2 linked regions of the Homo sapiens genome follow. The protein of the gene in region 1 interacts with the protein of each later gene in a pairwise test. Each region holds a gene or a part of one and is shown in the gene's direction. Other genes may lie near its edges.

Region 1 (3,748 bases):
ATCTATAAACAAATCAATAAAGGCTTATTTCATACAAGTCTTTTCACTGGATATAAAATGGTGCTGCTATTTTCAATCTGACATTACTTGTTTTGCAGATCCCTACCTGCCTTCATAAGCACAGATGTCAAAGTGTAACTCACAACTAAGCAGTATTTAAAAATAATTTCTTTTCCTCTTTTTTTTTTAATCTTGGAGACAAGATCTCATTCTGTCACCCCAAGCTGGAGCGCAGTGGTGTGATCTCAGCTCACTGCAGCCTCGACCTCCCCCAGGTTCATGCAATCCTCCTGCCTCAGGTCTCCCCTGACCCCTAACCCTCAACCCCTCCGCCGCCGCCCAGTAGCTGGGACTACGGGTGTGAACCACCACCCTTGGCTAATTTATGTGGTTTTTTTTGTAGAGATGGGGTTTTGCCATGTTGCCCAAGCTGGTCTCTTCTAGACTCAAGCAATCCACCTGTCTTGGTCTACCAAAGTGCTGGAATTACAGGAATGAGCCACCGCACCTTGCCTTAAAATATTTTCATATTCCTGAATAGAAATTCTGGTACATTAAAAAACATCTGATTTCTCTTGAATATTATTTCATCTAGAATTCTTCACAAGTATTTTTTCTAATATAGTAAATTTTGAGTTTTTAAAAAAGCAGCAAATACTGAATAAAATCTGAAGTGCTCAGCAGAGCTAAAATGAACTAAGTATTTTCCAATAACATTCAACATGAGCAAAGGAATACAAATTTGAAACAAGAAAAGGGCACAAATGTCATCACTGATTTATAAGTAATTAATTTTAAAATATGCATCTATAATGATCTTTTAAAAGGAAACCTTGAGAATGCTGAGGTTCTAATACTAAGCTAGTCTTATGGTTACAGAAAACTTAAATAGCATAACTATTAAGATTTAAACACCAATTTTCTGAAATAAGGCAAAAACGTATTTTCATTACTTGTATTTTCTCCAACGTAAAGTCTATGGGGAAAAAAAGCTGTGAACCACTCCTAAACCCAGAGATCATCTGTTTAAAAATAAGCAGTAAAAAAGTTTCTGCTAAAACCTATGTATACATGTAGAATTCAGGCCTTTCTGTGCTCTTCTATATAAGGTTGCAACCAGAGCAAATTAATGGTGTTCCACAGCAAAGGCACAAAAGCTAGATAAGAATCTTGTTTCACTGCTAGAAATCAGAACTGTAGAAATCACTATAGGCTTTTAAAACGGCAGAATCTTCAAAGAATGAAACCTCTAAAATAGCTAGATTATATCTTATTTTTTCTCAAATGTGAAAAACAGCTCAGGCTTAACCCCAAACAAAACTATCTGAAGCTAAAATGATCAAGTTTATTACAGTCCCCCCAAATATTAAAGAGAGCTCTTAAAAATATAACTTGAATAAGGGCCATGAACTGGTTCAACATGCTTAACAGTGGTTTTATGAATTACAATGAATGCTGCTACTCTCTAAAAATGAATGTATCAAAGAGGAAATAACCTCCTTGGCATGCTTGCAGCTATACAACGTATTTGTTTCACTGCTTTCAACCGCCTGTGCTGGAGGCTCAGAATAAGTCAATGGGAGGAGGATTTCAGTCACAGCAGCAAGCAAGTCTAGTGAACAGATAAGATGACATGCTCAGCAAAATAACAACGAAACCAGAGGTAAGCATTTAATAAACACATATGGAATTAATCTAAAGGTTTTTTTTTTTAATCTTCAAGAATTCTGCTATCATAATCTTTCATTTCTATTCAGCGGTTTAAAAATCAAAATGAAAAATTTACTAATGCTAAAGGAGAGTTTTTAAAAACGTGATTTGTACATTTGATGAACAAATAAATGGTCTAATCTTCCTTTTGGTTTCCCTTTCTTCTCAAGGCAACTGGGAAGGTTAAAAAAATAAACACTACTTAAAACAAAAAAAGAACTGGTTTGAATTTGGCAAATTTAGTGATTAAATTTAGAACACAATTGTTGCAAAGACATACCATGAGAGATGAAATTACTAAACACAATTATTTGGATCCTAGTAATACCTTTTTTTTTCCTTCTCTCAAACTAAAGGAAATCTAAAATGACATTTATATCAGTACTCACAAACCTGATAAGACAAAGCTAATTACATATAAGGATCCCTAGCTGGTAAAACATTTATTTAGACCCTTGTTGGGCTTTGAGTGTTTCTAGGTGGGTGGCCAGCGCATACTAAAAGTTCTATTCTGAACTATTGTGTTTCGACTTTTCTATTCTTCTGTAAGTAAAGGTAAAAAGACATTCAAGGGTCAGGAAACACCTAACTTTTTATTATAACCATTGAAAAAATTAATGTGTCTTCTGTTTCATTAACTGAGCAACATCAGAAATACAGTATATTTGGAGAATTGGCTGCATTGTCACAAATGCACAACAGACTTACTAAGAAGGGAAGGGCTATGAAGTTCAAGTGTTTTTACCACTTTCAGAAATGAATAAAATAATGCAGTCTATGTATTTTGTATCTAGGGGGAACTCTCTGGCATGCAAGTTCAAACACGACTCTACAACTACGGCAGAAAAAGAGAGAGAGAGAAACTAAAAATATATATATATCCTATTTTTTTCACAGCTATCAGTTTCTTTCACTGAGCTTTCCTAAATTTAAGCCTCTAGAAAATAATAAATACTTGGATATCTTACCTACAAACATGGACAGATGTGTGTATGCGCTCATTTTAGAGAACTTGAATTTTTTTTTTTAAAGGAAGGTGTCAACTTTGGCTTTTGAGTGTTTGGCATGGTTACAATGCCTTAAAAAAACAGATGAGCAGCTTAGCTACTAACCATGCTGACCACTGTTCGGAACGGGATTGAATCACAGAAAAACAGCAAATGGCTCTCTCTTACAGAGTGTCTGAACTTCAAAGCACAATTCCTGAGCACATTTTGCAGAGCACCTTTGTTCACGTTATCTCTTCTAACTGGTCTGGATTACAGACAGAATCAATACCAGAGGAAATGAAACAGATTGTTGAGGAACAGGGAAATAAACTGCACTGGGCAGCTCTTCTGATACTCATGGTGATAATACCCACAATTGGTGGAAATACCCTTGTTATTCTGGCTGTTTCACTGGAGAAGAAGCTGCAGTATGCTACTAATTACTTTCTAATGTCCTTGGCGGTGGCTGATTTGCTGGTTGGATTGTTTGTGATGCCAATTGCCCTCTTGACAATAATGTTTGGTAAGTATTTCACTTTGTTTGTGCCATCAAACCACAGAACTATGATATACTATTAGAGAATGGACACTCATTTAATCTTTACTTTTCTTGAAATAAAAGATGAACTTGGACTATTTAAAGATACGGCAAGTAAACAGTCCCTTGTTTTATATCATTCTCTATGGTTGATCAGCAGTTTTAAAGAGCAAAAAATATTTTTTGTAAACTATTTTTCTCCCTCCTAAGCTATCTAATAAAATCATTTAAAAAGTCATTCAAGTTAGTGATATTTATAGATTCTGAATATATTATCTATAAATTATAGTAAATAGGCCTATACTTTAACTTTTCTACACTGATACTTTTTTTCCTCAAAGCAATAACTAGGACACTTCCGGGACAGATATGCGCTGGGTTAACGATAAGGTCTTTGAATTACTAAATCCCAATTTAAATCACTAAACCCCAGTTTAAAATTGGAACTGTCCAAAAATTCTTATTATAGCTCTTAATAGTTTGTATATTATAAACTTGAACACAATTCCTA
Region 2 (3,748 bases), on another chromosome or scaffold:
ATTTTTGATTTATTGATTGATTGATTTTTTGAGACACTCGCTCTGTCACCCAGGCTGGAGTGCAGTGGCACGATCTCGGCTCATTGCAACCTCCGCCTCTCGGGTTGAAGTGATTCTCCTGCCTCAGCCTCCCAAGTAGCTGGGACTACAGGTGCACACCACAACATCCAGCTAATTTTTGTATTTTTAGTACAGACGGGGTTTCACCAAGTTGGCCAGGATGGTCTCGATCTCTTGACCTCATGATCCGCCCACCTCGGCCTCCCAAAGTGCTGGGATTATAGGTGTTAGCCACCACACCCAGCCTATTTTCTTTTTTCTTTTTCTTTTTGGAGACAGAGTCTCACTCTGTCCCCCAGGTTGGAGTGCAGTGAGGCAATCTTGGCTCACTGCAACCTCCACCTCCTGGGTTTAAGCGATTCTCCTGCCTCAGCTTCCCAAGTAGCTGGGATTACAGGCATGTGCCACCACACTGGCTAATGTTTGTATTTTTAGTAGAGAAGGGGTTTCACCATGTTGGCCAGGCTGGCTTAGAAATCCTGATCGACCTGCCTCAGCCTCCCAGAGTGCTGGGATTACAGGCATGAGCCACTGCACCTGGCCTATGCCTGCTCTTTGAGGTCAGTTTTGGTTTCATACTTTAGCCTCATTTTGCAGTTGAGGAAACTGAGGCTTAAGGAAGATAAGCCCTTTGTTAAGTATCCTCTAGTTCAGAGGGTGCAGAAGGAGCATTTGAATTCAGGGCGACCCAGGAGGATGTGGGCTCCACAAGGGTGGAGATTGGGTCTCTCTGGTTCCTCACTGTATGCGGTGCCCCGCCCAAGGCCTGCACCCACTAAGGGCTGAATAAATACTTGTTCTAAGACCAGGCCCAGTAGTGCACGCAGGTAATCCCAGCACTTTGGGGGGCCACGGTGGGAGGAGCCCACGAGTCCAGGAGTTAAAGATGAGCCTGGGCAACATAGCAACATCCCATCTCTACAAAAAAAATTAAAAATTAGCCGAGTGCAGTAGAGCACCTGTAGTCCCAGCTACTCAGGAGGCTTAGTCAGGAGGATGGCTTGAGGCAGGGAGGTCGAGACTGCGATGAGCTGTGATTGCACCACTGCACTCCAGCCTGGGCAACAGAGGGAGATCCTGTCTCAAAAAAAAAAAGCAGCAGACAGAAAGAAAACTAATTTCCTGCACAGCTTGGAGAAGTTTTCAGCACCAACATTCCACAGTTGGTTGTCTGGGTTTGGGCAGTAGGCCGTTTTCCCTCCCAGTGCCTCAGTTTCCACACCTGCAAAACGAAGCCACGGAAACGCCCTTTCAGGGTGGCCAGGGGTTCTAGGCGGCATCGCCCGGTGGCAGGGTGTTCCCAGGGTGAAGCCGCAGGGTTCCCGGGTGGGGGCGGGGAAGGCTAAATGCGGCCGGCCGGTGAGTGGCGGGAGCAGCTGCAGCCCCGCCCGCGCCCTCCCGGGTCCCTTAGTCTGGGCAGCTGCCCAGCTCGGGCCGGTCTGACCGGTTTGGGCCGCCCCGCCTGGCGCTGTGCTGGGAGGAGCCGCCGCCAGTCGCGCGGTCAGTGCCTCCCTCCAGACTCGGGAGGGTCGAGGGGGCGCGGGAGAGAGCGCGGGCGGCCGCCGGGGCTGGTCGCCTGCAGGGATGGGGGACGAGCGGCCCCACTACTACGGGAAACACGGTAGGCAGCGACCCCCGCCCGTAGCCCCGGGCCGACCCCTCGGTCCCTCGGAGGGGGCCTTGAGAGAACATGGGGCGCAGGGAAGGGGGCTGGAGGGGGAGCGCAATTGCAAATCTGCGCCTGGAGCCTCCCCACCATCAGCCAGGCCCCTTCACCCCACTTATCCCCCGCAGCCTCGCAGACGACCCTCCTTACTCTCCCCTACCCGAAGGACCTGCCCCTGTACCCCTCTGCCTGGCACTGCTGCCGGCGCCTCCTTCCCCCTATCCCACCTCAGATCTTCCCCATCTCCACCTGGTTCCGTGGTGGTCACCATTTCAGCCCTCTTCCCAGTGGGTGGCCGCCAGTTAATAAGTTTGTTCACAGTTAGTGATCCCTCCTTCCTCCCCTGTCCTGGCCTGCCAGAACTGGGGGCTTGGGTGTGGTCACCTGGAGGTGGGTGAGGCAGAAAATTCCACAGGTCTCTGAATTTTATTCTTGCCAAGGCAAAGACACCCCTAGGGGCTTTTGGGAGGGGGCTCTCCCAGCCCTGTCTTGGTTCAGGTCTCCAATCCCATCCATCTTAATCTTCTTGACTTTCAGGAACGCCACAGAAGTATGATCCCACTTTCAAAGGACCCATTTACAATAGGTAAGAGCTCTGGGTTTTGGGGGGTTCTCCCCGCTAATACTACCCCAATCCCTGTCTCTTCACACCCCCTCCCATCTGTTCTCCAACAAACTGGTGACAAATATTTGAAACTTTTTTTTTTTTTTGAGATGGAGTCTTGCTCTGTCACCAGGCTGGAGTGCCGTGGCGCGATCTCAATCTCGGCTCACTGCAACCTTCGCCTCCCGGGTTCGAGCAATTCTCCCACCTCAGTCTCCCAAGTAGCTGGGATTACAGGCTTGCACCACCACACCTGGCTAATTTTTTTTTTTTTTTGTACTTTTAGCAGAGATGTTTCGCTGTGTTGCCCATGCTGGTCTCGACCTCGTGAGCTCAAAGCGATCCACCTGCCTTGGCCTCCCAAAGTGCTGGGATTACAGGTGTGAGTTACCACACCTGGCCTGGACTTAATTTTTACCATGTTTATATTTATTTATTTATTTATTTATTTTTGAGATGGAGTCTCACTCTGTCACCCAGGCTGGAGTGGTGCAATCTCAGCTCACTGCAACCTTCCCCTCCTGGTTCAAGCACGTCTTCTGTCTCAGCCTCTCCAGTAGCTGTGACTACTCAGAGGCTACTCAGAAGGCTGAGGCAGGAGAATTGCTTGAATCTGGGAGGTGGAGGTTGCAGTAAGCTGAGATTGCGCCACTGCACTCCAGCCTGGAGGACAAGAGCGAGACTCTGTCTCAAAAAAAAATAACAAAAAAATAAAATACAGCCAGGCACGGTGGCTCACACCTATAATCCCAGCACTTTGGGAGGCCAAGGCAGGTGGATCACTTGAGGTTAGGAGTTCGAGACCAGCCTGGCTAACATGGTGAAACCCTGTCTCTACTAAAAATACAAGAATTAGCTGGGCATGGTGGCGGGCACCTATAATCCCAGCTACTTGGGAGACTGAGGCAGGAGAATCGCTTGAACCTGGGAGGTAGAGGTTGCAGTAAGCTGAGATCGTTCCACTGCACTCCAGCCTGGGCGACAGAGTGAGATTCCCTCTCAAAAAAAAAAAAAAAGTCTAGCTTGGGCAACATAGCGAGACCTTGTCTCTACAGAATGTATATAAATTAAAAAAAAAATGTGTGGTGGTGTGCACCTGTAGTCTCAACTACTTGGGAAGCTGAGGCAGGAGGATCACTTGAGCCCAGGAGTTCGAGGCTGTAGTGAGCTATGATCATGCCACTGTACTCCAGCCTGGATGACGGAGTGAGACTCTGTTGCACAAAATTAAAAAATGAAATGAAATAAAAATTAAAATGCATGTGCCCTTTGGTACGGCATTCAAACGACTCAGGAAAATTTGTCCAAATAACACATGGATGAGGGTGTTTGCAGAGGGCAGATGGGCCCATGGTGCACACAGCACCAAGCCTCCTCCAAACACTGCCCCTCTGCTCCCCAGGGGCTGCACGGATATC

The links. Proteins that work in one complex are often made in the same cells at the same time.
Region 2: the proteins of HTR2B (region 1) and SLC44A2 interact in a two-hybrid assay, tested with the Homo sapiens proteins (one large-scale study listed by BioGRID and IntAct).

Annotation. Positions count from the first base shown.
Region 1 is NC_000002.12:231,122,887-231,126,634, reverse strand, and holds the start of HTR2B (5-hydroxytryptamine receptor 2B), read left to right. Parts: upstream 1-1,592; 5' UTR 1,593-1,633; coding exon of another isoform or gene 1,634-1,663; exon of another isoform or gene 1,664-2,504; 5' UTR 2,505-2,870; coding exon 2,871-3,222; intron 3,223-3,748. UniProt on the Homo sapiens protein: G-protein coupled receptor for 5-hydroxytryptamine (serotonin). Also functions as a receptor for various ergot alkaloid derivatives and psychoactive substances.
Region 2 is NC_000019.10:10,623,990-10,627,737, forward strand, and holds the start of SLC44A2 (choline transporter-like protein 2), read left to right. Parts: upstream 1-1,563; 5' UTR 1,564-1,644; coding exon 1,645-1,681; intron 1,682-2,263; coding exon 2,264-2,312; intron 2,313-3,732; coding exon 3,733-3,748.